Linked DNA regions of Homo sapiens. The protein of the gene in region 3 purifies or fractionates together with the protein of the main gene of each other region. This does not show direct contact. Each region holds a gene or a part of one and is shown on either strand. Other genes may lie near its edges.

What was found.
Region 1: the proteins of ACP5 (region 3) and COA7 purify together in Homo sapiens (affinity purification with mass spectrometry; 2 studies listed by BioGRID and IntAct, with this or other methods). This does not show direct contact.
Region 2: the proteins of ACP5 (region 3) and CIZ1 purify together in Homo sapiens (affinity purification with mass spectrometry; 3 studies listed by BioGRID and IntAct, with this or other methods). This does not show direct contact.
Region 4: the proteins of ACP5 (region 3) and KLHL15 purify together in Homo sapiens (affinity purification with mass spectrometry; 3 studies listed by BioGRID and IntAct, with this or other methods). This does not show direct contact.

The regions. Positions count from the first base shown.
Region 1 is NC_000001.11:52,695,321-52,702,191, forward strand, and holds the start of COA7 (cytochrome c oxidase assembly factor 7), read right to left. Parts: upstream 3,028-6,871; 5' UTR 3,007-3,027; coding exon 2,901-3,006; intron 1-2,900. UniProt on the Homo sapiens protein: Required for assembly of mitochondrial respiratory chain complex I and complex IV.
Region 2 is NC_000009.12:128,167,573-128,174,572, forward strand, and holds part of CIZ1 (cip1-interacting zinc finger protein), read right to left. Parts: intron 2,536-7,000; coding exon 2,448-2,535; intron 2,129-2,447; coding exon of another isoform or gene 2,051-2,128; intron 1,948-2,050; coding exon 1,834-1,947; intron 1,630-1,833; coding exon 1,480-1,629; intron 1-1,479. UniProt on the Homo sapiens protein: May regulate the subcellular localization of CIP/WAF1.
Region 3 is NC_000019.10:11,574,643-11,582,630, forward strand, and holds ACP5 (tartrate-resistant acid phosphatase type 5 precursor), read right to left. Parts: upstream 3,004-7,988; 5' UTR 2,951-3,003; intron 2,676-2,950; coding exon 2,415-2,675; intron 2,202-2,414; coding exon 2,074-2,201; intron 1,947-2,073; coding exon 1,601-1,946; intron 712-1,600; exon of another isoform or gene 611-711; coding exon 368-610; 3' UTR 18-367; downstream 1-17. UniProt on the Homo sapiens protein: Involved in osteopontin/bone sialoprotein dephosphorylation. Its expression seems to increase in certain pathological states such as Gaucher and Hodgkin diseases, the hairy cell, the B-cell, and the T-cell leukemias.
Region 4 is NC_000023.11:24,024,175-24,032,016, forward strand, and holds the start of KLHL15 (kelch-like protein 15), read right to left. Parts: upstream 3,013-7,842; 5' UTR 2,966-3,012; intron 885-2,965; 5' UTR 683-884; intron 1-682. UniProt on the Homo sapiens protein: Substrate-specific adapter for CUL3 E3 ubiquitin-protein ligase complex.

The DNA.
Region 1 (6,871 bases), on a different chromosome or scaffold from region 3:
CAGGCGTGGTGGAACACGCCTGTAATCCCAGCTACCTGGGAGGCTGGGGCAGGAGAAGTACTTGAACCTGGGAGGCAGAGGTTGCAGTGAGCTGAGATTGCACCACTGCACTCCAGCCTGGGCGACAGAGTAATACCCTGTCTCAGAAAACAAACAACCAAAAAGCCACCAAAACCAAACAAACAACCCCACCCCCCAACAAAAACGTTACTCTGGTATATATGTTCATATATGCCTGAGTATGGAGGAATTTAATTATGTGAGGGTATATAATTGGGCATTGATAACAAATAGGTTATTTTAAAATCTAATATTTAACATAACAAAATTGAAATTAAAATATCAGTTTATCTGCGAGTAGAAATGGATTTTAAGGGAGTAAAGTGCAAAGAGAGGGACAGGTTAGAAGGCGACTTCAGTTATCCAGGTAAGAAAGTGGGACATGCAAGGAACTACTACACCAGTCGCTACGGTAACTATAGCCTCTTCTCAGGTCTCGTAAAGTGCTGCAGCCAGTCCTTTTGATATATCCACCCTTCCCAATTCCAAGAACTTGCTTCTCAGACATGTTTTGCTCTCCATTGCCTACAGAGCAAAGTCTATATTCCTTACCCTGGCATTCAAGCCCTGACATACTGTGGGCCAGACTCCCGCTTCAAACGTACTAAATCCTGACTTCAACCTTCCAAAAGATAGCACTTTCTTCTCCCACCCTCTCCTCCATTTAATCAACACTTGCCCAGCCCTCCAGACCTCCCCTCAAAGTCTTCCCTAACCACCCTGTTCCTTAGTGACCCCAATTCCTCTAAGTTCTTTCTATACTTAGGACATGGACCAGCTCTCAAAGAACAACCCCAGGTTCTTTTTTTTGAGACGTTGTTTCACTCTTGTTGCCCAGGCTGGAGTGTGATGGCGCGATCTCAGCTCACTGCAACCTCCGCCTCCCAGGTTCAAGCCATTCTCCTGTCTCAGCCTCCCGAGTAGCTGGGATTACAGGCGCATGCCACCACGTCCGGCTAATTTTTGTATTTTTAGTAGAGACAGTTTAATCATATTGGTCAGGCTGGTCTTGAACTCCTGTCCTCAGGTGATCTGCCCACCTCAGCCTCCCAAAGTGCTGGGATTACAGGCGTGAGCCACTGTGCCCGGCCCAACCCCAGGTTCTTTTCAAGCCATCATACTGCAGAGCAACTCTGTGTCATGACTATGTTATGATATGTATATGGTTGTGTTATGGTCTATGTTACGGATTAGCCTCAAGGAATAGCTATGTCATTTCTGCAAACTAAACTGACTAAACTGCAAGCTATTAGAAGGTAGGGCCAGTGCCACTTTTTTTCTTTTCTTTTTTTTTTTAGTAGTGACAGGGTTTCATCATATTGCCCAGGCTGGTCTTGAACTCCTGGCCTCAAGTGATCCTCCCACCTCACCTCAGCCTCCCAAAGAGCTAGGATTACAGGCTTGTGCCACCACACCAGTCCTTTATTTGAAAGAAAAAAAAAAAAAAGGCTGGGCACGGTGGCTCACACCTGTAATCCCAGCACTTTGGGAGGCCAAGGCAGATGGATTGCTTGAGGTCAGGAGTTCGAGACCAGCCTGGCCAACATGGTGAAACCCTGTCTCTACGAAAATACAAAAATTAGCCAGGCCTGGTGGTGGGTGCCTGTAATCCCAGCTACTCGGGAGGCTGAGGCAGGAGAATTGCTTTAACCCAGGAGGCAAAGGTTGCAGTGAGCTGAGATCGAGCCATTGTACTCCAGCCTGGGTGACAGAGTGAGACTCAGTCTCAAAAAAACAAAAAAATTAAAAAGTAGGCAGTGTGCAGTGGTTCATGCCTGTAATCAAAGGCGGGAGGATCACTTGAGCCCAGGAGTTGCGACCAGCCTGGACAACGTAGTGACATACTATCTCAAAAAAGAAAGAAAATACAAAAAATAAAAATAAAGCAAGAAGAAGAAAACCACCCAAAGGTATTAGCTGCTCTGGGTGGACCCCTCTGGTCACCACCATCCACCTATACTCTTAAGTCAATTCAATGTTCACACAACACACAGGACACATTTGTGATTCAGGGCGTCTTCGCCAGCTGTTACCTATGGTAAGAACTGCATGGTTCACTCCCTTACCTTCTTCAAGGCTTTATTCAATTGCCACTTTCTCAGTGATCTTCCCTGATCACTCAATTTAAAACTGCCCTCCTGCCCTCCTGACACCCTTCACCCAGTCTTTTTTCCACGGCACTTACTACTTTCTTTTTATTTATTTTTTTTGAGACGGAGTCTCGCTCTGTCGCCCAGGCTGGAGTGCAGTGGCGCGATCTCTGCTCACTGCAAGCTCCGCCTCCCGGGTTCACACCACTCTCCTGCCTCAGCCTCCCGAGTAGCTGGGAATACAGGCGCCTGCCACCACGCCCGGCTAATTTTTTGTATTTTTAGTAGAGACAGGGTTTCACCGTGTTAGCCAGGATGGTTTCGATCTCCTGACCTCGTGATCCACCCGCCTCAGCCTCCCAAAGTGCTGGGATTATAGGCGTGAGCCACGGCTCCCGGCCGGTACTTACTACTTTCGAACACGATTTCATGAATTACCTGAGGCTTATTGCCCGACTCCCCGCACTAGCTTGGAAGCTCCACGAGGGCAGGGAGTTTCATCTGTTCACCGATGGATCCCCAGTCCCTAACCCAAAAGCCCCAGCACGTCTCTTCCTACCCGCCCCGGCCTCCTGGCTCGGTCTTCCCGGGACACATCGCCCTTCCCAACACACGCGGTCACCGCGATCCACAGACCCCGTCCCCCGCCCGCCACGTGATTCCTTCTCCAGCCTCTCAGAGGTCGCAGACCAGACCTCTCCGGGCACGTCCCTCCCCGACGCGTCGCCGGGCTGCGCTGGAGCCGCTCACCGTCCGGGTCCTTCTCGTGGTAGCAGTGGTAGTTGCACTCCACCTCCATGTTCTCCAAAAAGGACTTGACCTGCTCCTCATCCTGGAAGTCCACCATGCCGGCCATGGTTCGCGCCGGCCCAAAGACGGTCACGTGAGCCGGCGGAGGGGGCGGGGCGGGGCGTGGGGCTGACGCCGACGCCAACCGCGGCGCTCTCCCGGGATCCCGGGGCGAGCCAAGCGAGCCTGTGCTTCCCAGCAGCCATCGCGCCGTTAAGGGCGCTGGCAGCCACGCTTCCAGGGCTACCGCCTTCCTGAAACTGGGGGCTGTCTCTCTGCAGCACCTTACCTATGCTCGCTTTGTAGCCTTAGTGATTTTCCACCTGCAGTCATTTATCTATGTATAATCCCTAAGCGCCTACTGTGTGCCTCACCAGTGCATTGTTCTAGGGATATGACAGCTAGGAATATGGTCCCTGCCTTCAAAGAACTTGGAGTTCAATAGGAAGACATTCGCTTATCCATTCAGCAAGCATTTAGAGGAGCTTCTATATGTGCCAGGTGTAGCTGGACAAAGTGCAGTGAGCAGTCTGATTCATCTGTCTTCTTCCCAGACCTGTCTTGGCCACCAACATGAATTACCTAAGCAATGAATGGCTATGGGAGATGTTGACTGGCACACAGTAGCAGTGAAGGGTGTAGCAACGTCACTGTTATAACACCTAGTACTCAAACAGTGCTGAACTTTGTTCCAGGCTCTAAATGCTTTATATGAATTAACTCATTTAATTCTCATTATATATCATGTCACTGTAAAAACACTCACAGTGACACTGTGGGTAGGTATTATTATTATCCCCATTCTACAGATAAGAAAACTAAAGTACAGAGAAATTAAGTAGTTTGTCCAAGGTCACACAGTAAGTGAGGGAGTTGGTATGCAATAATAATTTTTTTTAAAAAAATAAAAGAATGAATGAGGCCGGGCGCGGTGGTTCACGCCTGTAATCCCAGCACTTTGGGAGGCCGAGGTGGGTGGATCACCTGAGGTCAAGAGTTCGAGACCAGCCTGGCCAACCTGGTGAAACTCTGTCTCTACTAACAATACAAAATTAGCAGGGGTCTCTACTAAAAATACAAAATTACAGGGAGCACACCTGTAATCCTAGCTCTTTGGGAGGCTCAGGCAGGAGAATTGCTTTAACCTGGGAGGTGGAGGTTGCAGTGAGCCGAAATTGTGCCATTGCATTCCAGCCTGGGCGACAAGAGCGAAAAAGAATGAATGAGGTAGAAAAGGAACATGTCAAGGAGATGGGGAGGAGGAGAGGAAATTTACCTACATTTTGCTTTGTTTTCCTGCTCCTGTTCCTGCTAAGAATCATCAGTTCCATAAAGCTTAGATGGAAAGTTCTCCTAAGACAGCCACTTCCTATTCGTCTTTTTTTTTTTTTTTTTTGAGACGGAGTTTCGTTCTTGTTGCCCAGGCTGAAGTGCAATAGCGCGGTCTCAGCTTACTGCAACCTCCGCCTCCCAGGTTCAAGCGATTCTCTTGCCTCAGCCTCCCGAGTAGCTGGGCTTACAGGTGCCCACCACCACGCCCGGCTAATTTTTTTTGTATTTTTAGTAGAGACAGGGTTTCACTATATTGGCCAGGCTGGTCTTGAACTCCTGACCTCAGGTGGTCCGCTGGCCTCGGCCTCCCAAAGTGCTGGGATTACAGGCGTGAGCCACCACACCCGGCTGACTTCCCATTCATCTTTGAATTCCATCCAGCCCTACTTTTGAATTCTCAATGGAGCTAAATCCATGGCTTCCCATCGCCTATAACAATGCTTTCCAAATGGCTCCATTATTAAGCTATCCCCAATGGCAGCAAAGAATGGACTATTTCCAACCACTTATTTATTGGAAGGCAGCCAATAATGTCTGAAATCCCAGTTTTATTTTTTAAATTCATAGGATTTTACATTCATTTCCCCATAATACATCTTTCATAGGATAACAGAAGATTGCCTTTTCTCCCCCAAGCCTTTGAGTAAAATTGACATTCCAGGCAATATACCACATTTACCTGTGGTTTCTTATACCCTGATCACCTTAGGGGACTCCTCAGTACACATGGCCCAGGATGGGAATCCTTGAACTTTGGTTTGAGGTCATCTTCTTTAGGATGGCCTTCAAGACCCTGTGCAATCTGATTCTAGCCTTATTTTCTGCCTCTCTTCCCCCACATCCCACCAACCTTCTGTTCTCTGAATAGATCCCAAGTTTGTGTCCCTGTTTACCTCTGCTCTTGATGCCTGGACCACCCTTTTTGACACAAATCGGAAATACTCTCCTATGTAAAGTCTTCCCAGACACAACAATTACACACATTCAAATTAGATTTAGATGCTCCCATTTTGGTGTTCCACACCACTTGGTTTATTCTGGTATAGTGTAGTAGGAAAGAAAGAACTGGCTTTGGAGTGGGGACAGATCTTAGTTCAGAATCCATGTTCCATGTTTATTAAATTGTAACCTTAAACCAATCATGTTTGTGAGTCTGAATCCTCTTCTGTAAATGCAGATCCATTTGTAATGGCTGTCAGAAGGACTACAAGTTCATGTATGCAATGTGCTTGGCAGAGCGCCTGGCTCAAAGTCATTCCTGTTCCAGGAATGTTTCTTGTCATGCCAATAATGGCATGAAAGTCTGTGTTCCCCACCAGACTGTGACCTCTGTGTCCTGTATGCTGGTCACAGGGCCAAGAATAGAATAGGGCTTGATGATAGAATAGAGCAGGGTGATGTCGATTACTAAAATCTGGGAATGTTTCCCTTTATTTTCTGAGTTGAACTGCATTGAAATGAGATCACCTGAGCGGTAGAGGGCACAAGAGAGTTAGTTGGTGATGAGAGGCTCAACCAAGTAAGAGGTCACTTTTTTTTGTTTTGCTCTTTCATCCAGGCTAGAGTGCAGTGGCGTGATTTTGGCTCACCGCAACCTCCGCCTTACGGTTTCAAGCAATTCTCCTGCCTCAGCCTCCTGAATAGCTGGGATTACAGGCGCCCACCACAATGCCCGCCTAATTTTTGTATTTTTAGTAGAGATGGGGTTTCACCATATCGGCCAGGCTGGTCTCGAACTCCTGACCTCGTGATCCGTTTGAACTAACTGTTGCCTCTGCCCTAGAGTGCTTTTCCCCTGTATTTTTTTTTTTTTTTTGGCTTGCCTTCTTAAGTTCTCTGCTTCAATTTGACATCGTCCATGTGGTCTTAGCTCATTCTTGTTATAATAACAGTGTCTTGATTGTGCCCAGCAATATTAGGTGCCCAAGTATTGTTGACTGAATTAAGAAGAGGGATTATCATTCCAAATAATTTGGTTTTCATTAATGGAACTTAGAATATCACTGACTCTTGCTCTTTTGACCCAGGTTTTTCTTAAAGCTATAAGAAACATTAAATGAAGGTCTAATTGACATACAGGAAACTGCACATAACTTTAAAGTAACAATTATGAGTTTCTACATATGTATACACCTGTAAACCATTATCACAATCAAGATAATGAGCATATTCATCACCTCAAAATTTCCTCATGTGACTTTGTACTTCATTCCCTCCCCAGCAACCATTAATCTGCTTTCTGTCACTGAAGATGGGTTGCATTTTGTAGGATATTATCTAAATAGAATGATACAGTAAGTACTGTTTCTTTTTGTATAGTTTCTTCGATTCAGCATAATTATTTTGAGATTCATCCATGTTACCACACGTATTAATAGTTCATTCTTTTTCTTAGTGAATGACATTTCATGATGTAGATATATCACAATTTGTTTATCCATTTGGGTTTCCAGTTTTTGGCTTACAAATAAAGCTGCTGTGAATATTTGTGTACGTGTCTTTGTATGGGCATTCATTTCCATTTTTGGGGTTCATACCTAGGAGTGGAATGGCTAGATCATATGGTAGGTATATATCTAACTTTAAGAAACACCCAAACT
Region 2 (7,000 bases), on a different chromosome or scaffold from region 3:
CTGGGCAGGGAACCCTGTAGGTCTAAGCCGTAGTTCACACTCTTAACCATGAGCCCCCTGCTAACTCCCTGAGGTCCTATCCAATACTGCAGTGACCTTGGTCCTAGAGGGTGGGTTTCAAGGGATCAAAGACTGCATTTCACCTGCTGGATGTGAGATGAGGTCATCTGACTCTGGCCGTGTCAGCCCTAGCAGGCCTAGCAGTGCCCTCCACCACTCACCAGGCAAACAAATGTGGCTTCCAAGAAGGACAACCACCCCCGTTTGCTAAGCCCTTCCTAGGACCAAGCTGTGGGCCCTGGGCTTCCCTGATAGTCCAAGTTCAGGTTGTTACTTCTGAGCAGAGGCAACTGAGGCTCAGAGAGGCCAAGTGGCTTGCCTGAGATGATGTGACTACTGAGCAATGAAGCTGGGCCTCATACTACCCTGCCTAGGACTGCAGGCCCCCCCACCACAACGCTTCCTCCCCAGCCCCTCAATACCCCACTTTGGCTGCCAGAGGCTATGAGCAGCCCCAGCTGGCCCCTCACCACCCTGGACTATAACTGGGTCAGCCTTTGAGGGCAAGGACCAGGCCTTGGCCCTCATGGGTCCCTGCTTCCAGCACCAGGGCCTGACCTAGAACACACTCTCTGGAAACGTGTTAAACTGCAAAGAATCTGGCTGGGCATGGTGGCTCACGCCTGTAATCCCAGCACTTTGGTAGGCCGAGGTGGGTGGATCACCTGAGGTCAGGAGTTCGAGACCAGCCTGGCCAATATGGTGAAACCCCGTCTCTACTAAAAATACAAAAATTAGCCGGGCGTGGTGGTGGGCACCTGTGATCCCAGCTACTTGGGAGGCTGAGGCATGAGAATCGCATGAACCCAGGAGGTGGAGGTTTCAGTGAGCTGAGATCGCACCATTGTACTCTAGCCTGGGCGACAGAGCGAGACTCCGTCTTGAAAAAAAAAAAGAAAAAAAAAAAAAAACTGCAACGAATCCAAGCTCCTCCAGCTCCTCATTCATGAGAGACAGGGTAGCTGCGGCATTGGAAACATGGACTCTGAAGTTTTACTTCCTGCCATCCAATCTGATGAGATTCAGCCAGGATAGTGCTTGGTACACACACCTGGAACACACTAAGTGCTCAAAAAGATGTCTGCTGCTGTCAGTCTCTCCATTATCATCACCATCATCTGACTTTTCCTTTGCACACTACATAGTTTCCCACCTCCGTGCCTTTACTGATGCTGTTCCCTTTCCCTTCCTCCACACAGGTCCAAATTTCAGTCAGGCTTTGCATATTTTAACTGCCACTCTCTAGTCATCATGCATAATTACATAGTCATGCAGAAGGCAGTTGACAGTAATCAGTTGTGGCATGCATTAGTGCCCACAGATGCCAGCCCAGTGTCTGGCCTCCGGGAGGTGGGATGAGGTCTGTCCTGGGCTGGGAATCCAGCACCAAGCCCGCCTCCCACACCCTCCCCCCAGCACCTGCTTGCAGAGTTCCTCCTCAACCTCGATCTCTTCTTCATCCTCATCATCCTCTTCCTCTTCTTCATCACCCTCGAAGCAACCCACAGCGTCCACTGTAATGAAGTGGTCCTCATCTTGGCCAGCAATTTCTTTCTCAAGCGACTTCAGCTGCCCAGGGAGTAGGCAAGGAGCTCAGGTCAGCTCTGAACAGCCAGGGGGCCATGCCCTACCCACCCCACCCCTCCCCTGAGAGTCCCAATCCCTCCAGACCCGCTGTGAGTTTGGGCTGGGATAAACCTCAACTTGCTACACAGCCTTGGCCAAGGCTCTGTACCTCTCTGGGCCCATGTCCTCTGAGGGAGCTCAGGTTACCTCCTTGGCTTTGTCCTTATGCCCCTGGGACTTCACGTGCTCCACAAACTTGCGAGGGGTTTTGAAGTAGCGGTTGCAAACGGTGCAGAAGGGTCGCAAGGATTGTTTGGCAATCTGGAAAAAGGCAGGCCAACCAAGCAGTGTCCCCAGCTGCAAGCCCCCTGACTAGCACCCAGGCAGGGCCCAGCAAGAGCTCACCTCCCCCGGGCAGGCCCACCATATCTGTAACAAGCCGGGCTGTGCTCCACCCCTGCACTGGAACGTGGGCAAACACATCTCTTCGTGGTGTGGGTGGCTGAGAGATAGGATGGCAGATGGCAACACAGAGACAGGACAGACACAGAGAGAAGACGAGAGAGAGGGCAGCTGCCCAAATAACCCCTGTGAGCCCCGTGGCTGAATGGCAGGTGAGATGGGGCCTGGCCTACACTGGACAGATGGGGAACCTGAAGCCCGAAGAAGAAACAAGACTGACTCCTCCAGAAACTGCATTGTGGGTTATGGGTGTGCAGGGGCAAAGAGGAACGTTTACTTTCCAACTGGGGCTCTGTGTTGTCTGGACTCCACTTGCAGACGGCAGTGCGGGTGCCTCTGCAGCGTGCAGGCCCTCCTACCTTGTGGTCCTGTGTCCTGCGGTGTTGGATCAGGTCCCCCATGTAGTAGAGCTGGCAGGTGTTGCACCAGCGCCTTGGTGGAGGCTCCCTGAATGACAACAGTCAAAGCAAGTACAATGTGACGCCAGAAAGACAGCAGCTGTCTGAGAGCGCTCCATAAGTGTAATCCATTCCAATAGCAACTCCCACAGGATCTCTTAGGGAAGCTTAACAAAATGGTTCTGAGGTTCATCTGGATGAGTACTTAAGCAGAAATAACCCAGGAAACTTTAGGGGGAAGGGGAATGAAGCACTGGGGATACCAACCTTTAAAATGAAAACCACAAGCTACAATAGATAAAACTGTGTAGTGTGATGTACATCCTGACAGTGTATCAGTGGGAAAGAATGGAAAGTCCTAAACAGGTTCAAATATTGGTAAGAATTCAGCTTCGCCAGCCTGGGCAACATGGGGAAACCCCATCTCTAGCAAAAATACAAAAAATTAGCCAGGCATGGTGGCTCATGCACCTGTGGTCCCAGGTACTCAGGAGGCTGGGGTGGGAGGATGGCTTGAGCCTGGGAGGCAGAAGTTGCAGTGAACCAAGATAGCGCCACTGCACTCCAACCTGGGTGACAGGGTGAGACCCCCATCTCAAAAAAAAGAATTCTGCTTCTGATAAATTGGTATTGAAAAGCATAGATTATACAACAAATTATGTCAGAACAATTTGTTGTCTACTTGGAGAAGAAACGCCTTCTGCTTCCACCTTCTACCTTACTTGAAAATGAATTCTAGCTGAACTACCAGAGATTCAGGCATAAAAATAAAAACCATATACTTTAAAAAGGGAGGCCGGGCATAGTGGCTCACACCTGTAATCCCAGTCCTCAAGGCAGAAGGACTGCTTGAGCCCAGGAGTTTGAGACCAACCTGAGCAACACAGCAAGACCCCATCTCTACAAAACATAAAAAACATTAGCTGGGTTTGGTGGCACATGCCTGTAGTCCTAGCTGCTCAGAAGCTGAGGTGGGAGGATTGCTTGAGCCCAGGAGGTCGAGGCTGCAGTGAACCATGACTGCCACTGCACTCCAGCTGGGGCAACACAAGACGCTGTCTCAAAAATAAATAATAAATAAATAAAAAGGGGGCCAGTCGCAGTGGCTCATGCCTATAATCCCAGCACTTTGGGAGGCTGAGGCAGGAGGATCGCTTGAGCCTAGAAGTCCAAGACCAGCCTAGGCAACATAGTGAGATCTTGTCTCTATATAAAATAAAATTAGTCAGGCATGGTGGTGTGCACCTATAGTCCTAGTTACTTGGAAAGTTGAGGTGGGAGAATTCCTTGAGCCCAGGAGGTTAAGGTTGCAGTGAGCCGAGATCACCATTGCCCTCCAGCCTGGGTGACAGAGAGAGACCCGGTCTCAAAAAATAAAATAAAATAGGGCCGGGCACGGTGGCTCACGCCTGTAATCCCAGCACTTTGGGAGGCCAAGGCAGGCACATCATAAGGTCAAGAGTTCAAGACCAGCCTGACCAACATGGTGAAACCCCATCTCTACTAAGAATACAAAAAAAAAAAAAAAATTAGCCGGGTGTGGTGGCACGCGCCTGTAATCCCAGCTACTCGGGAGGCTGAGGCAGGAGAATTGCTTGAACCCAGGAGGCGGAGGTTGCAGTGAGCCAAGATCGCGCCACTGCACTCTAGCCTGGGCAAAAGAGCAAGACTCCGTCTCAGAAAATAAATAAATAAATAAATAAAATAATACTTATTTTACAAGGGGAGAGCAACTATTTAATCTTGGGTTGGGAAAGATCATTGCAACATATAACATCAAAGCCAGAAATCATAAAGGAAAAAACTGATAGATCCGATTGCATAAAAATTTAAAACTTCTACATGTTGAAAGATATAAGAAAATTAAAAAGCAAACAAATGTCAATGACAAGGGCTGTGCTATCACTGGCCAGAGTGTATCCTTTATGTAGGCAGCTTCTTAAACCAAGGCTGGGCATACCGCTGGTTCACGCCTGTAATCCCAGCACTTTGGGAGGAGGGTTCCTTGAGCTCAGGAGTTCTGAGGCTGCATTGAGCTGTGATCACACCACTACGCTCCAGCCTGGGTGACAGAGTGAGACACTGTCTCAAAAAAAAAAAAAAAAAAAAAAAAAAAAAAGAAAAAAGAAAAGCCAAATACATGTAAAACCCTGGCTGGGCATGGTGGCTCACGCCTGTAATCCCAGCACTTTGGGAGGCCAAGGCAGGCGGATCACTGAGGTCAGGAGTTCAAGACCAGTCTGGCCAACATGGTGAAACCCTGTCTCTACTAAAAATACAAAAAAATTATCCAGGCGTTGTGGCAGGCACCTGTAATCCCAGCTACTTAGGAGGCTGAGGCGGGAGAATTGCTTGAACTGGGAGACGGAGGTTGCAGTGAGCCAAGATTGCGCCACTGCACTCCAGCCTGGGCAACGGAGCGAGACTCCCTCTCAAAAAAAAACCAAAAAAAGTGTCTCACTCAGCGAAAATAAGGACTCTCTATAAAATATGCAAATACACAAGTTTTCATAAATTTTAGGGGACACATGTCCACTGATAAAGCCCTGTAAGAGCTCTGCTGGGGAGGGCTGCTTAGAGACAGAAAGTGTTCGTGTTGTCATGTAGCATGATTCCGATTTTTATTTTTAAAGATTGTATAAATCCAGAAAGGATCACAAGAAGAACTAGGTCAAAATGTAAACAGTGTTTATCTCTGGGTAATGGGATTATGGGTGATTTTTATCTTCTCATGTGTCTGTGTCCTTGTATTTTCAAAACGTTATATAATGAGCGAATTATTTTTAAAATCAGAAAAAAAAATTTTTTTGTAGTCAAAAAAGGCACATCAGCCACACAGTGAGAGTACCAGGTTTTAGATTTTAGGATTTAGGGACATTTACTGTCCTCAGTAAAATCTTCTTAATACTGCTGCAAGCAACAAAATCAGACTTTAAAGCAGCTTGCTCCAGGCTGGAGTGCAGTGGCATGATCAAGGCTTACTGCAGCCTCTACCTCCTGGGCTCGAGCAATCCTCCCACCTCAGCCTCCTAAGTAGCCAGGACTACAAGTGCATGCCACCAGGCCTGGCTAATTTCTTTTTTTTTTTTTTTTTTTTTTTTTTTGAGACGGAGTCTCGCTCTGTCGCCCAGGCTGGAGTGCAGTGGCGCGATCTTGGCTTACTGCAAGCTCCGCCTCCTGGGTTCAGGCCATTCTCCTGCCTCAGCCTCCCAAGTAGCTGGGACTACAGGCGCCTGCCACCACGCCCGGCTAATTTTTTGTATTTTTTAGTAGAGACGGGGTTTCACCGTGTTAGCCATGATGGTCTCGATCTCCTGACCTCATGATCCACCCGCCTCAGCCTCCCAAAGTGCTGGGATTACAGGCGTGAGCTACCGCGCCCGGCCGGCTAATTTTTTTATAGTTTACAGAGACACAGGTCTCATGACGGGCTGGTCTTGAACTCCTAAACTCAAGCAATCCCCCCACCTCAGCCTCCCAAAGTGCTGGGATTATAGGTGTGAGCCACCATGCCAGCCTGGCTCTATTTTTCAATGTGCATTTTGATCTCTGTGAGAGAAAAACACAACAAATGAAGAAAGGGGGTGGGGAGAGAACATGGTCATCAAACAGGCAGACACCTTGTGCCAGTGTCACGTCTGAGGCTGCCCAGAAACGGCCAACGCGGGCCGGGCATGGTGGCTTGCACCTGTAATCCCAGCACTTTGGGAGGCCAAGGCGGGCAGATCACAAGGTCAGGAGATCAAGACCATCCTGGCTAACACAGAGAAACCCTGTCTCTACTAAAAATACAAAAAATTAGCCGGGCCTAGTGGTAGGCGCCTGTAGTCCCAGCTACTCGGGAGGCGGAGGCAGGAGAATGGCGTGAACCCAGGAGGCGGAGCTTGCAGTGAGCCGAGATCGCGCCACTGCACTCCAGCCTGGGTGACAGAGCGAGACTCCATCTCAAAAACAAAACAAAAAAACAAAAAAAAAAAACAAAGAAATAGCTAAGGTAGGCAAGGGCTTAGTTCACAGCACCTGCCCTGGGGGCTTTGAGGAGGGAGGAGACGGGCACCCCCACCAGCTAGGGTATTGGGATCCAGCCTTCAGCCCCATTCCTGGGAACACCCCCCTGCCTTCCATGGGGAAATGTATTTCCATGTGGTTTGGGTAGAGCTGGCCTGCCTAGGCCTAGCCAGTCAGAACACCTTATCCCTGGCCAGGGGATTGCTTCAGAAACGTGCACGTGACCACAATCAGATTAACCAGCATTTCCACTAGAAACTGTTCTGCTACCGCAGACACAGGTGACTGCCCTTCCTTGGAAGTCACTGTGCAGGGAGGCTGGGGCTGTGGGTACCTGGTGCCCACTGTAGTGAGAGATGGAGCCTCTCTAAGAAATGGTATCCCCTGGGTCCAGCTGTATCTCTTATATTCCCACTAACCTAAGCCAGAAACATTGTTCCTTTTTGCTCAAGCTAATTTCTGTCTTATAGAAATTAGAATTTTTTTCACTTACAACCGCGAAGAAC
Region 3 (7,988 bases):
CACACCAGTGGCACTGGTTCAGCCTTGGCAACTATTCTTTTATTGAACATCAGTAACAGAAAGATGCTTGATTTAGGAGGAAGCTTTCCCTCCCTCCCTCCCCCATTGCACCCCGGAACTCAGCAAAGGTGAGCCAGCCACAGAGCATAACACTGTGGCTGGGACACATGTCCATGTGTGTTTCACATACGTGGGCATCTGTGCCACAAGGGTCATGTGGCACCACAGTTCATCAGCTGTGTTTCCCCTTCCTGCCCTGCTGCAGCGCCACAGGTTGGAGGAAAAGCCTGCCTGTGAGCAGGGTCCCGGCAGGGCCCACCCACCCAACAGTGGAGATCGGGCCTCAGAGCTGGGCAGTCATGGGAGTTCAGGGCCTGGCTCGCCTCGGCAGCCTGGTCTTAAAGAGGGACTTGCCCGAGGCCTCGATGTAAGTGACAGTCATCTCTTTGGAGCTGATCTCCACATAGGCAAAGCCACCCAGTGAGTCTTCAGTCCCATAGTGGAAGCGCAGATAGCCGTTGGGGACCTTGCGCTGGTGCCGCTTTGAGGGGTCCATGAAATTCCCAGCCCCACTCAGCACGTAGCCCACGCCATTCTCATCTTGCAGGTACTGAGGATGGAGGACAAGGGGTCAGTGGAGACCCAGCTTTGAGCAGAGCCCTGCCTAAGGTCCAGGGCTCGATCTGGCCCTAACCACAGAGTCACCTTGAGGTATGTAACCCCTCCTGGCTTCAATTTCCTGACTTTTAGGAGTGTATTAATCCTATTTCATAGGTAGAGCACTTAGTAAGAAATTGGTGGCCAGGTGTGGTGGCTCATGCCTGTAATCCCAGCACTTTGGGAGGCTGAGGGGGTGGATTGCTTGAGCCCAGGAATTTGAGACCAGCCTGGGCAACATAGTGAGACCTTGCCTCTACAAAAAAAATGCGCAAGGGCCAGGTGCAGTGGCTCATGCCTATAATCCCAGCACTTTGGGAGGCCGAGGCGGGCAGATCACTTGAGGTCAGAAGTTCGAGATCAGCCTGGCCAACATGGTGAAACCCCGTCTCTACTAAAATATAAAAATTAGCAAGGTTTGGTGGCCCATGCTTGTAATCCCAGCTACTTGGGAGGCTGAGACAGGAGAATTGCTTGAACCCAGGAGGCGGAGGTTGCAGTGAGTTGAGATCGTGCCACTGCACTCCCTCTCAAAAAAAAAAAAAAAAGCAAAAATTAGCTGCATGTGGTGGCCCATGCCTGTAGTGTCAGCTACTCTGGAGGCTGAAGTGGGAGGTTCACCTGAGCCCGGGAGATTGAAGCTGCAGTAAGCCCCGATTGCACCACTGCACTCCAGCCTGGGTGAAAAACAATGAAACCTTGTCTCCAAAAAAAAAAAAAAAAAAGAGCTTAAAAAAGAAAGAAAGAAAGAAATTGGCAATTCGAAGATATTATTCTGGCTTTGGAGTGTTTTCCTGGTTAGACAGCAAGATTTGAGGGACAGTCTAGACATTCTGAAGGCCACAGGAGACCCTCAAACAGCAGGAGGACCCCAGCCATGTGGACATCAGCTGGGATGGGGACCCCCCTCACCCAGCTCCCACCCCACCCACAGGGCCCTCACCTGCAGATTGTGATCGTGGCCGCACAGGTAGGCAGTGACCCCGTATGTGGCCAGCAGTGGCCGTAGCTGCTTGACCAGGCAGTGGGTAGGCCCGTGCTCGGCTATGGACCACACGGGGTAGTGGCCAGCCACCAGCACGTAGTCCTCCCTGGCCGCCGCCAGCTGTTTCTTGAGCCAGGACAGCTGTGTGCGGGCCAGCTTCACGTCTCGGGGCCTCTCAGGCTGCTGGCTGAGGAAGTCATCTGAGTTGCCACATAGTGTCACTGTGTCCAGCATAAAAATGGCCACAGACACATTGGTCTGTGGGATCTTGAAGTGCAGGCGGTAGAAAGGGCTGGGGAAGTTCCTGTGGAGGGGATAGAGGTCGTGGGTGCACATCTTGGGCGCAGAAGTCCCAGGGTCAGCTCAAGCCACAGGGCCCCTGTGTCCCTGCTATGTGAGGATCTCGGAAGGCAGGGCTGAGGGTGGCTCACCAGCGCTTGGAGATCTTAGAGTATGCAATCTGGGCAGAGACATTGCCAAGGTGGTCATGGTTTCCGGCTAGCACGTACCAGGGCACTTTGCGAAGGGAGCGGTCAGAGAATACGTCCTCAAAGGTCTCCTGTAGCAAACAGATAGGGCAGGCCTCTTCCCTGGGGTCAGTGGCTATGCCGATCCTCCCACCAAGTCAGGATAAGGGAGACACTGAATGCTCCCGGCGCCCAAAGGTGCCCCATCACCTTCCCTCTGCCCTCACCAAAGGAAGGTCACTAGGTAAGGCGGCTTCTCCCCACTGCCCGCCCCCACCTCCTGCCCCACTCTGTTGGGCACAGACCTGGAACCTCTTGTCATTGATGTCTTGCACACCAGTGAAGTAAAAATTGTCCCCTAGAGACAGGATGAAGTCTGCACCCAGGATCTGCACAGTCCGAGCGATCTCCTTGGCATTGGCCATTTCCCGGGCCGTGTGGAATGGGGCATTGGGGACCCCTCCCCAGTCACCCACGGCTACAAAGCGCAGGGCAGGGGTGGCACCATCAGCCAGGGAGGGTAGCAACAAGGCTTGCAGGATGAGCAGCGCCGTCCACATGTCCATCTGGGAGAAGAGAGACAAGCATAGGTGGCCCGGGCTGTGACAAGGGCAGGGAGGCCTTGAGACCCCCGCCTGCCCTGAGATAGAGGGAGACTGCTTGCTGCAGGCTGCCCCTGCGGGAACCCCTTGGTGCCCTAATTCTCAGGACACACAAGCTGCACAAGGCTGCACAAGCTGGCTTAGGGAAGGGGGGCGCGGTCTGTGAGAGGGCGAGCTGTACCAAGATGGCCCTGCAGGCCCATTTCACCCTCCTTCCACCTAGCCTGCCCAGCACTCACCCAGGGGGAGACACAGGCCAGTCACCGGAGGCTCTGAGAGGCTGGTGGGCTCTAGAGTAGAACTGCCGGTCCCTGAGCCTTTATTCCCTGAGGAGGAAGTGGATCATTAGTGAGGATGATGCAGTTTCTCCGAGGGCTGTCCCGGGAGCCCTCCCCTTGGGTCATGTGAGCCCTGGACTTCCCTGGAGCAGGACACGGGATTGGGGTGGGGGTGGGAGGATCTGGGCACACGTGTGCAGCAGCCTCGGCCCACACAGCCTCCGGGTGGACCTGCAGGGGCCTGTTTGTGCTGTAGGCTTGACACGTCCAGGTATCTCTGTGTGTCTGTGTATCTCAGTGTGAGTGTGTGTGTGTGTGCACACTTGAGAGGCTGTGGCTGTGATTACCCAAGACACATCTCCTGCACCTTCTTTCTCTGAGTAAGGGCTTACCTGTGTGTGTCTGGGTGTGTCTTGCTTCCTGCGTGCAGCTGAGCATGCCTACCTGGGCCTCGGCTCTGTACCTGATGGTGTTGCTGCAGACATGTATGCTGAGCCTGCGAGGCCTGTGTGGCTTGTCTGCGATGCACGCCTGTGTTCTCACGTGGCACTGGGTGGGAATCCCTATGGATGGAGTTTTGTGTGTGTCCATGTGTGTGTGCCTGGGTTGCATCTCTAGGATGGGTTGCGTGTCTGGTGTGGGAGCTGTGTTTGACAACATCTGGGTGGGGGACTCCGCGTGTGTCCCCGTCCTCCCCCTGCCCTCTCTCCATCCCACACATAAACACCAACGGGCTTCCCTTTTCCAGGAAGTCCTGCCCACACCCTCCCCTCCCCCCAGACTCCCATTCCTGCAGGAGGAACCAGGCAGGAGGCAGCTAGCTGGTGATAGCGCGCGTGACCACAGACCTCTGACCCTCATAGTCTCAGCAGCTGTCTGCAGGCCCTCCACGGGACCGCAGCCTGGGAGGGCAGGAGGCCCTGCACCTGCGGCCGGTCTGACCTGCTCCTCACCTCCCTGCCTGCCTCCTCCGTGCTGGGCGCCGCCGCGACACGTCCCGCGGACATTCAGGAGTCCCTTCAGTCCCTGCGAGCGCGGACCCGGGAGAGAGCTCTCATTCAACGCTGAGGCCACTGGCTCACAGATCTCCCCGGGTCACCCTGCGAAGTGCTTGGTCCCCCCCATTCCCAGCCCTGCAGCAGCAACAAACGGGAAGGAAGTGGGTGACGAGGACAGGCAGAGACCCCTCCCACGGGGCCGCCCGCATCTCACCTGCCGTCGCGGGGCGGGCGTTGCGGCCGGTGCCCAGCTGCAGATCCGCAGGCGATCGCACTCCTGGCGGCCCCAGCTTTAAGCAGGCAGCGGCCGATCCGCCCTGCTCGAGGGCTCAGGGCTGACCCAGGTGAGCCCCGGCGGGGAGGGCGGGCGCCTCGGCCTCCCCGCCCCGGAACCCTGCACCGCCCAGAGCCGCCACGCCTCCCGGCTGTAGGCTCCGCATCTGTAAAATGGGCCGATGAACCCCAAGGGTCGGCTCAGACCCACGGACTGCAGCTGCAGCTGGGCTAGAAGGGGTGGCCAGGGGAGCCGATTTCATCCTTTTCCTTCCTCCACGCCAACCAGGAGCCTCCATCTGCCTGGGACCCTTTGGGGGCACCCATGGGCCCACAGCCGCAGAACCACAGCACTGGGTGGGGTTTCAGCCCTGGGGCCAAGCTCTTGTGAGGTCTGTCATCATCTTCTCCTGTTGTTTTGTTTTTTTGTTTGTTTGTTTGTTTGGTTTTTTTTTTTTTGAGACAGAGTCTCGCTCTTTCACCCAGGCCGGACTGCAGTGGCGCGATCTCGGCTCACTGCAAGCTCTGCCTCCCGGGTTCTCGCCATTCTCCTGCCTCAGCACCCCCGAGTAGCTGGGACTACGGGCGCCGCCACCGCGCCCGGCTAATTTTTTGTATTTTTTAGTAGAGACGGGGTTTCACCGTGTTAGCCAGGATGGTTTCGATCTCCTGACCTCGTGATCCACCCACCTTGGCCTTCCAAAGTGCTGGGATTACAGGCGTGAGCCACCGCGCCCGGCCTGTTTTTGTTTTTTTTTTTTTTGAGACAGTTTTATTCTGGTTGCCCAGGCTGGAGTGCAGTGGCGCAATCTTGGCTCACGCAACCTCCGCCTCCCGGGTACAAGCGATTCTCCTGCCTCAGCCTCCCTAGTAGCTGTGATTACAGGCACGCACCACCACGCCCGGCTAATTTTGTATTTTTAGTAGAGACGGGGTTTCTCCATGTTGGCCAGGCTGGTCTCCAATGCCCGATCTCAGGTGATCTGCCCACCTCAGCCTCCCAAAGTTCTGCGATTACAGGCGTGAGTCACCATGCCTGGCCAGTCTCCTGTTTTTTTAAAAACTTATTATTTAGCCGGTGTGGTGTCTCACACCTGTAATCCTGGCACTTTGGGAGGCCGAGGTGAGCGGATCACTTGAGGTCAGGTGTTCCAGACCAGCCTGGGCAACATGGCAAAACCTTGTCTCTACTAAAAAGACAAAAATTAGCTGGAGGTGCTCTCTTGAACCCAGGAGGCAGAGGTTGCAGTGAACTGAGATCATGCCACTGCACTCCAACCCAGGAGGAGGAGGTTGCACTGAGCCAATATCATGCCACTACATTCCAGCCTGGGCGACAGAGCAAGACTCTGTCCCCCCCAAAAAAAAAACAGAAAAAAAAAAAAAGAAAGAAATCTGAAGCAATTATGACCAAATGTTAACATCTGTTTCTTCACGTGGTGGGTACAGGCGTGTTTTGGAAGCTTCTATGCTTCCTGTATTTTGAGATCACACAAAATTATGTTTATTATCTTATTGTGCTACATGATCTTTGTAGAAAAGTTGGTAAATTCTGGAATGCACGAAGAAAAAGATTATAATAGCCAGTAATACCCCTGCCCAGAGAGACAGTATCCATTAATTTTTCTCTGCCTATGTTTGTCTTCGGAAAAATGGGATACTATTGGCACTATTTTATAACTTTTTAATTTGTATTAACACTTTCTATATTTTTTAAATTGAAAAAGCTGGCCAAGCATGGTGGCTCAGGCCTGTAAACCCAGCCAATGTGGGAGGATCGCTTGAGCCCGGGAGTTCAGGAACAGCCTGGGCATCGTGGCGAGACCACATTGCTACAAAAAAAAAAAAAAAAAAAAAAAAAATTAGCCAGGCATGGTGGTGCACACCTGTGGTTCCATCTACTCAGGAAGCTGAGGTGGAGGATCGCTTGAGCCTGGGAGTTTGAGGCTGCAATAAGCTACGAATGCACCACTGACCTTCAGCCTGGGCAACACAGCTAGACTCTTGTCTCAGAGAGAGAGAGAGAGAGAGAGAGAGAGCACAATGAAAAAAATAAACCTGATCTTGCACAGAGCATGTAATAAAACCTGTGCGTTCTTGGCTATCTCTCTCTGGTCTCCTCCAGGGTGCTGAATAAGCTCTTCTCTCTCCATTCACCCAGGAGAACTCTCTTCTGCTGATTTTCTGTGGAGCTAGATCAGGCTGTGACTCAGAATCTCCCTCCACCTCCACCCTTTCCTATTTTCCCAACACCAGTGTCAATCTCAGATGTCAACAACCCCACGAGTGAGTTCCTCCTGTTGCCAATACATCCAGGTCCTGTTCTCCGCTGCTGTCTCTACCCAATCCCTTCCCTTCCTTCCTCCTGCCAATCCTGCTTTCCCTGTTTCTTGCTCCTCTGACCTCCTCCGCATTGCTTGACTGTCTCAGATACACTCTGGCCTCAGGGTCTTGGCACTTTCTGTTCTCCCTGCCTGGAAGGGTCTTCCTTAGTCAGATACTGAGGTCACCCATTGTGTTCAAGTTCCTTTAATTTATCTGAAATGAGTCTGGGCGTGGTGGCTCACGCCTGTAATCCCAGCACTTTGGGAAGCCAAGCCGGGTGGATCACTTGAGGCCAGGAGTTCGAGACCAGCCTGGCCAACATGGTGAAACCCCATCTCTACTAAAAATACAGAAATTAGCTGGGCGTGGTGGCACAAACCTGTGGTCCCAGCTACTCAGGAGGTCGAGGCAGGAGAATTGCTTGAACCTGGGAGGCGGAGGTTGCAGTGAGCCAAGATCGTGCCACTGTACTCTAGCCTGGGTGACAGAGTGAGACTCTGTCTCAAAAAAAAAAAAAAAAAAAGAAAAAGATAATTTATCTGAAATTATCTGAAATGCACCACCCTGCCCCCATCATTGACTCTCCTGTTGCTGTAGTTTTCTCTGCAGCACTTACCAGTGCTTGAGAAAACCACCCACTCATTTATCTTGCTTTCAGTTTCTCTTGCTTTCAGTCTGTCTTCAGTTAATGAAAGCTTTTTTTTTCTTTCTTTTTTCTTTTTCTAAAACAGAGTCACCCAGGCTGGAGACCAGTGATGCGATCACGGCTCACTGCAGACTCGACCTTCTGGGCTCAGGGGATCCTCCCACACCCCTTGGCCTCCTGGGGATTGAGACTACAGGCACACACCACCACACCCAGCTAATTTTTGTATTTTTTGTAGAGAGAGGGATTTGTCACCTTGTCCAGGCTGCTCTTGAACTCCTGAGTTCAAGCAATCCTCCCAACTCAGCCCCTCAAAGTGCTGGGATTACAGGTGTGAACCACTGCCCCTGGCCTGTTTATTTAAAAAATTAACATTCATTCTCAGTTTATTGGCTAAGTTTAGAAGTAGTATCAGAATGTTTAAGAGAACTTACTGTTCTCCTTTTATTTGTATGTTTGCATTGTAGATTTTTAATAACTGATAAGGACTTCTCAAGGTGTTTGCTTGGTGGAGACATTTAAAAAGATTAAAGAATAGGCCAGGTGCAGTGGCTCATGCCTGTAATCCCAGCACTTTGGGAGGCCGAGGCGGGTGGATCAAGAGGTCAGGAGATCGAGACCATCCTGGCTAACATGGTGAAACCCCATCTCTACTATAAATACAAAAAATTACCTGGGTGTGGTGGCACGTGCCTGTAGTCCCAGCTACTCAGGAGGCTGAGGCAGGAGAATCGCTTGAACCCGGGAGGCAGAGGTT
Region 4 (7,842 bases), on a different chromosome or scaffold from region 3:
CTTCGTAGGAGGAAGGCCAAGCAACGTGACTATTACAGATCTATGGATTCACAGCACTGCTTTACTATTATTCCGTACTTATTTGCTTATATTTATAATATAGAAATAAAGAGGCAGCAACAGTTAGCCACTACATTAACCACTCTACCAAAGGTTACTTAAAAAACGGCCTTGCATTCTTACAACACTCTACAGTTAAGGATTATTTTCACATATATGACCTCATATAGTCCTCTCAACCCTGCGATGTTGGTAGTACCGACTATATTTCATAGATAAGAAACCAAGGCTCGGTACGCGATTTTTTCTCAGAGTCACCCAAGTCGAACCCAGACCTTCCGATTCCTAGTTTTATGCCTCGCATTTTGCATAGTTCTATTTCAGGCATAAATTGAATTGTTAAAGGGAAGGAACGGGTTAGGCAAAAAATAATCATGGTACCTGCAGCTGTGTGCTGCAAAAAATGGCTGAATTATGCTTCTTCCTTTTTCTTTCTCGCTCTCTCTGGAAAAAAAAATTACATTTCAAACAATTTAAGTAAACTCGAAGACAAACGAGGTCCCGGCGTCTACCAAATGTTTGACTCGGGTCCGTGCAGAGAGGGCCGGCGAATTCGTGCCTAGCTCGGGGCCGCGGGCGAAGCCCGGGCTCCGCAGGCCGGCGGCCAGGGGCGGCTACGTACCTCGGGGGGTCCTGTCCAGCCTCTAGTGGACGGCAGTCTGCATCAGGAAGAACCGGGCCAGCGGGCCGATGGGTGGGCGGTCGGGCGCCGGGACGGCACTCGGCAGGCTCCTCGGACGTCTACGAGCAGCCGCTCCCGGCACGAGCCGGGTCGCTCCGGCGGGGCACGAGAGTGCTCGCCTGCAGCCCCCTCTGGATAAGTCCTGGGAAAGAAGACAGCGCTGAGTCGAGAAACCAGACAGTCGGGCTCCGCACGAGGCGGCGCGGCGTCGGGGCCCGGACCGACCTTGCCAACGCCGGGGGCCTCGCAGCACCCGACGGGGCTCGGCGGGAGGGCCGACTGGGGCCGCGGGCGGGGAAAAGGGCTGGGGGGCAGCAGGCAGAGACAGAAGCACCAGCCGAGGAAGCGTCGAGGACGGCGTCTCTGGGCTTCTGCCCCGAAGCGCGCCGAGCCTCGGGATCACCCACGCCGGGGGTGGAGGAAGGCGGGAAAGGGGCGGGGAAGGGGCGGGGCGTGCGGGGCCACGAGCCGGGGGCCGCTCCGGGCCGCGCGCCCCCTGCGGGCCGCGGGAGCCGCCCGGGGCCCGCCCAGGGAGGCGGGGCTGGCCGGCAGGGGGCCCAGTGCGCTGTCGTCTTGACGCGGAAGGCCGCCACGCTGGGAGAGAGGGCGGAGGGTGGGAAGCCGTTGGGGGCGGGGAGCTGGCCCGGGAGGCCCCCCCCTCGGCCCCTGCTGGCGCCCCGAGGGGGCCAGCCCGTGGCCTGGCGGGTGTTTACCTTCCCCCTGGTCGAGCGCCAATGCCGCCATCTTTCAGCCCAAAACGCGTCACTTCCGGCGCCACGGGAGCGGGAGCGGGTGTGGGAACGGGGGGGAAGGGGGGGCGGGGAAGGCTGTCCCGCGCCCGCGGCGCCCCGCGTCCCGGCTGCCGGCCCGCCACGCCAGCGGTTTCCCACCGAGGAAAACAGGCGGCCGGGCGTCGCGGCCCTGGACTGGGCCCGACGCAGCTTCCCCCGCGGCGCCGCCGTCGGGGCTGAGGACACTCAGCTGTCCTCGTCCCCTTGCAGCGGTCTCTCTCCGCCTGCACGAGCGATGGGCCCTGAGCCACTGCGGTGCGCCCACCCTCGACAAGTTGAGGGCTAGGAAGCCAGGAAAGTGTCTTTTTGCATCTTGGCCACGGTGGGGGTGGGGGAATCGGGGACAACGTGGAGGGAGCTTTTCCATAGCTACCTGTTATAAAAGTGACTAGATCTGCGCCAAATGACATCATTTTTTGTAAGGCAACTTGCAGTGGACTATTGCGTCACTGTCCACTTGGCTTACTGCACAACAATTACACGTTTCAGAAATCGATTTCCCAAGGGTGGGAAAATTCATAAAAAATTGCATGTCTGCACCACCCGGAGATAATGCCGGATTTAAAAAAGCTGTCTCTACTTGCGTCAAAATAATCAAGAACGAACATTCAGAGGGCAGTGATTTTTGTTGTTCGTTTTTTATAGAATTCTAGCTAGTACTTTTTAAATATTACCTTTTCTTGACAAGAATATAAAACTAGACTATAGGACTGTTTTGTAAATTTATTATGGCATCTCTTTCTGGGAAAAGTGTAGATGACGGAAATACACAGTTGGAAGCCCGTGGATCTACAATTAACCTTAAATTAGGGCATCCATTGCCCATAGCAGATCCTAAACTGAGGTATTTCGGCTTCCCCCACCCCCACCCCCCGCCGCCATTTTCTCTCTAGACCAATATCCCGATGAACTTTCCGTGAGAGGTGTCGCTAAAAGCGATAATTATCTCTTTCTAGCAAACTTGAACATACCATCTTTCCCAAGAGGCCAAAATAGCACACGGTGTACTGTTTTGCTGAAGTAGACTACTTCGTGGGAGAGATAACACAATCACTTCAATCTTTTGGAAATACGCTTCCTTATTCCGATTTAAACTATAACAAGCTTTAAAAAAACTGTAAGACACTGAAATTCCCAAGTTGTTCACACTTTCTTTCCATCTTTTCCAATAGCTCCTTTAAGATATTTCTGTTCATTATTTAAAAATCCCTGCTTGCCATATTTGTATCTATTACTACATGACAAATTACCCCAGAATTTCACATTAAAACAAATTTTTAAAATTAAATCATAAAATAAACTTTAAAAATGCATACATTCCACTTCTGAATATTTAAATGTTCATGCATTATTCCCGAACATCTAAACGCTGAGTTTGGATTTTTGTACATTAACTAACATTTTAAGCTATACATTACTATGTGGCACTGACCTGTCTAAAGAGAGGCTTCTGTTCTTGATTCAAGCAAGAGTTGAAACGTTTCTGCGCTCTTTGTACCAGGTATAAATGTAGTGAGTGTATGTCATAAGCCATTGTGTGATCACCGTGCTTCCCGTCCCTCCTTATTTTGACATTGCAAGGTCTCGTGGAATTTCAAATGTGCTTTTTTGGATATTTATGTAGTTTTAAAACTGGGCTGTGTCTTTCAATCAATCTATACGTTTACTATATGAACCCCTCCCCAAGTTATCTTCAATCAATGATGCCTCTTTCACTCTTATTTCTTATTTTTATGTTATTATTATTATTTTTTTTTTGAGACAGTCTCACTCTCGGCCAGGCTGGAGGGCAGAGGCATGATCTCAGCTCACTGCAGCCTTGACCTCCCGGGCTCAAGCAATCCTTCCACCTCAGCCTCCCGAATAGCTAGGACCACAGACGTGCCCCACCATGCTCGGCTAACTTTTCTTTTCTTGTTTTTGTTTGTTTGTTTGTTTTGTTTTTGTTTGCTTGTTTTTTTCTGAGATGGAGTCTGTCGCTCAGGCTGGGGTGCAGTGGATCTCGGCTGACTGCAACCTCCGCCTCCCGGGTTCAAGCGATTATCCTGCCTCAGCCTCCCGAGTAGCTGGGATTACAGGCGCTCGCCACCGTGCCCAGCTAACTTTTGTATTTTTAGTAGAGACGGGGTTTCACTGTGTTGGCTAGGCTGGTCTCAAACCCCCGACCTCATGATCGCCCGCCTTGGCCTCCCAAAGTGCTGGGATTACAAGCGTGAGCCACTGCACTCCAGCTCAGGCAACAGAGCAAAAACACCGTCTCAAAAAAAAAAAAGAAAAGAAAATATATTTTAACTTTCCCCACCAATTTCTGGACTGTAATGGGAGTTGTTAAATACCTTGAGAGTATCCTTTCACACTGGTAGAGTCCCACAGAGGTAGATGGAAGCTGTCTTTTCTTAGCCCTCTAGCCTAAGTATTTGAGAATACACATTCCTCAATAGCTATTTATTTAGCAGCTAGCGAGGTCGGAAGCATGCTAGAAGCCTGGGCCTGGGAGTGCTGGTGGAGTTGGAATGAGGTTCTTCCCCAGGGGTTCTGAGGATTTAGGATACTGCATACCCTCCTCCTCCCTCCTGTTTTTGCTTTTTAAGAAATTGAGGCCAGGCGTGGTGGCTCACGCCTGTAATTCCAGCACTTTGGGAGGCCGAGGCGGAAGGATCATTAGAGGTCAGGAGTTGGAAACCAGCCTGACGAACATAGTGAAACCCCGTCTCTATTAAAAATACAAAAAATTAGCTGGCATGGTGGTGCGGGCCTGCGGTCCCAGCTACTCAGGAGGCTGAGGTAGGAGTATGGCTTGAGCCCAGGAGGCAGAGGTTGCAGTGAGTCGAGATTGCACCACTGCACTCCAGCCTGGACAACGGAACTAGACGCTGTCTCAAAAAAAAAAAAAAGAAAAGAAAAGTTGAGGCTTTTCAGAAATTCCCAGTCTGTGGTAGTTGTCTTGGTAATCACTTTTCTTTTTACTTTTTTTTTTTTTCTTTTTTTTGAGACAGAGTCTCCCTCTATCATCCAGGCTGGAGTGCAGTGGCGTGATTGGCTCACTGCAACCTCTGCCTCCCAGGTTCAAGTGATTCTCCTGCCTCAGCCTCCCAAGTAGCTGGGACTACAGGCACACACCACCACGCCCAGCTAAATTTTGTAACTTTAGTAGAGATGGGTTTTCCCATGTTGGCCAGGCTGGTCTCGAACTCCTGACCTCTAGTAATCCATCCACCTCAGCCTCCCAAAGTGTTGGGATTACAGGCGTGATCAACCGCACCCAGCCACCCCATGATCTTTCCACTGTACCATGTAATTATATTAACATAGTAAATGATCTTCACATAGTTGTATTTTTATTCCTACTTAATTCCACAAATTGTTGGTTTGCAATCTACTATACTATTTATTTATTCATTCCATAAGTATGTGTAAGTGCCTAGTACATGCCAAGTCTTGTTCTACCCACTGGGGATCCATCAGTGAATAAAACATATGAAAACTCTAGCCCTTGTACGGATTACATGTGTCAGGTAATAAAATAAATAAGCAAATTATGTGGCCTGTTAGAATGTGGTAAATGTGGCCGGGTGCGGTGGCTCACGCCTGTAATCCCAGCACTTTGAGAGGCTGAGGTGGGTGGATTACTTGAGGTCAGGAGTTCGAGACCAGCCTGGCCAACACGGGAAACCCCATCTCTACTAAAAATACGAAGAAATTAGCCAGGCGTGGTGGCACATGCCTGTAATCCCAGCTATTTGGGAGGTTGAAGCAGGAGAAGTGCTTGAACCCGGGAGACTGGGCGAAAGAGGGAGACTCTGCCTCAAAAAAAATATATATTATTTTCATAGAAGTTTTAATGACTTATGAAATTGTTTCTAATATAATCTTATGTGAAAATGCAGGACAAAAAAAAACTATAATTGCACTGATCACAGTAACACTGAACCCTCAGAGGTAGTTTTCTGTTGACTCCTTATTTTCCTGAGTATGGGTCACACTTTGCTGTTTCTTTGTACATCCTGTTTCTTTTAGATAATATGTTGTAGCAACTCTGGACTCTGTATTAACCCACTCCCAATCCAGGTGGTGGTAGAGTTTGCTATTTTTAGATTTGTTGTTTGTGTGGTGGTCAGCCTGGACTAATTCTGTGGCGTCTATTCCCCAAATCGGGATGTGATAAATGCTATGGAAAATAACAGAGCTGGGGAAGGGTGTTCCAGTTTTAACTGGGATGATCAAAGTAGGAGGTATCATTTGAGCCTTGCCTTCAATGAAATTAGGGACCAGAGTGTATAAAACCTGGTAGGCAATTGTAAGGTCTTTGGCCTGTGAGAAATTGGGAACCACTGGAAGCTTTGGTGAAGAGGACCAATATGATTTGACACTCAGGCTGCTATGTAAGTAACAGAATTTAGGTGGACTAGGGCAGAAGCAGGGAGATGGGTTAGGAGACTATTCCGATAATGGAATGGAATGGAATGGAATGGAATGGAGGCTACAGTGGAGATGGTGAGAAGTGCTTAGACTTTGCAAATATTCTGGAGGAAGAGCCAACAGGATTTCCTGGAGGTAGGGATAAAGGAAAAGAGAGGAGTCATGGATAACATCAAGGTTTTCTGTCCTGAGCAACTGGAAGGATGGAATTGTCATTTCCTGACATCGCAAAGACCTCAGGAGGATCAGTTTTGAAGGGAGTGGGGAGGAAGGAAAAGCTGCAAGGACTGGGCCCAGAGGTGTGCCTGGGCCAGGGAGCCATCCTGGAGAACAGAGGGAACTGGTTCCAGGAGATCAGACAAGAGTGTGGAATGCTACAAGCTAGAGAGAAAGTTACTGGAAGTTGCTAAACATTCACTATCAATAAAAGATGCAATGAATATTGCCATTTTAATGGAATATATTTACCTTGAAACATGGTGTAGACAATGCCCCCTTGTAGATGAAAACCTTAAAAAGAAAGTTATCATCTTTGTGCTCCTTATGAACCAATGAAAAATAACATTATGCTTCAGCTTCAGTTATGAGATTATCAAGGGGCTGAGTGTACAGCGAGGACTGGGCTTTGTGGCGCAGCAATGTGAGGGAGTCATCCGGGAGAAGATACAGGACTGTCAAGGAGACAGAGAAGGAGTAGCCAGTGAGATAAGAGTAAGACAAAGAGTGTGCTATGCTAAGCCAGATAGAAAAGTACTGTAATTGCTAAACATCCACTATCAATGAAAGATGAAACGAATGTCACCATTTTAACTAAATCTATTTACTGTGAAATGCAACGTAGACAGTGCCTCTTAGTAAATGAAAATGTTAAAAGGAGTAACATACCCCCTTTCCCAAAATTAATCATTAAAAAAAAGTTTTTTTAAGAGATGAGGTATCCCTCTGTAGCCCAGGTTGGAGTGCAATGGTGCGATCATAGTGATCATAGCTTACTGCAGCTTCGAACTCCTGAGCTCGAGGGATCCTCCTGTCTCAGTCTCCTGAGTAGCTCAAAATACAGGCTTGAGCCACTGTGCCCAGCAAAATTAATCACTTTTAAGTTCTTTATGAACCAATGAAAAATAACACTATACTTAGAAGCCTCAAGATACGAGCCACATATTTGTTTTTTTTTTTTTTTTGAGATGGAGTGTCGCTCTTGTTGCCCAGGCTGGAGTGCAATGGTGTAGTCTTGGCTCACTGCAACCTCCGCCTCCTGGGTTCAAGCGATTCTCTTGCCTCAGCCTCCCAAGTAGCTGGGATTACAGGCACCCACCACCACGCCCGGCTTATTTTTTGCATTTTTAGTAGAGACAGGGTTTCACCAGGTTGGCCAAGCTGGTCTCGAACTCCTGACCTCAGGTGATCCGCCCGCCTTGGCTTCCCAAACTGCTGGGATTACAGGCGTGAGCCACCGCACCCAGCCCAAGCTACATATTCTTAAGTACTGCATTTCAGTAGATGTGTACCCAAACATGCACACATTCTAAGTGTGAGTGCCAGAGTTGAGGTGAGTAGCAGGAATAAAGAGCTGCTACATGGTGTTGTATGACTAAAGAAGTGGAAAAAGAAAGAAAAAAAAACCTCCAGTAACTACTGTTGCCAGCAGCACAACTTCAGGGTTTGGGGACTGTGGTTAAGGATAGAGACAAGATTGAATGTAGGCTCTGAGGTTATTTATTGATTCTAAAACTAAGTTCTTAAAAAATGCAGTGATGGCCGGGTGCGGTGGCTGACGCCTGTAATCCCAGCAGTTTGGGAGGCCGAAGCAGGCGGATCATGAGGTCAGCAGTTCAAGACCAGCCTGGTCAACATGGTGAAACCCCGTCTCTATTAAAAATACAAAAATTA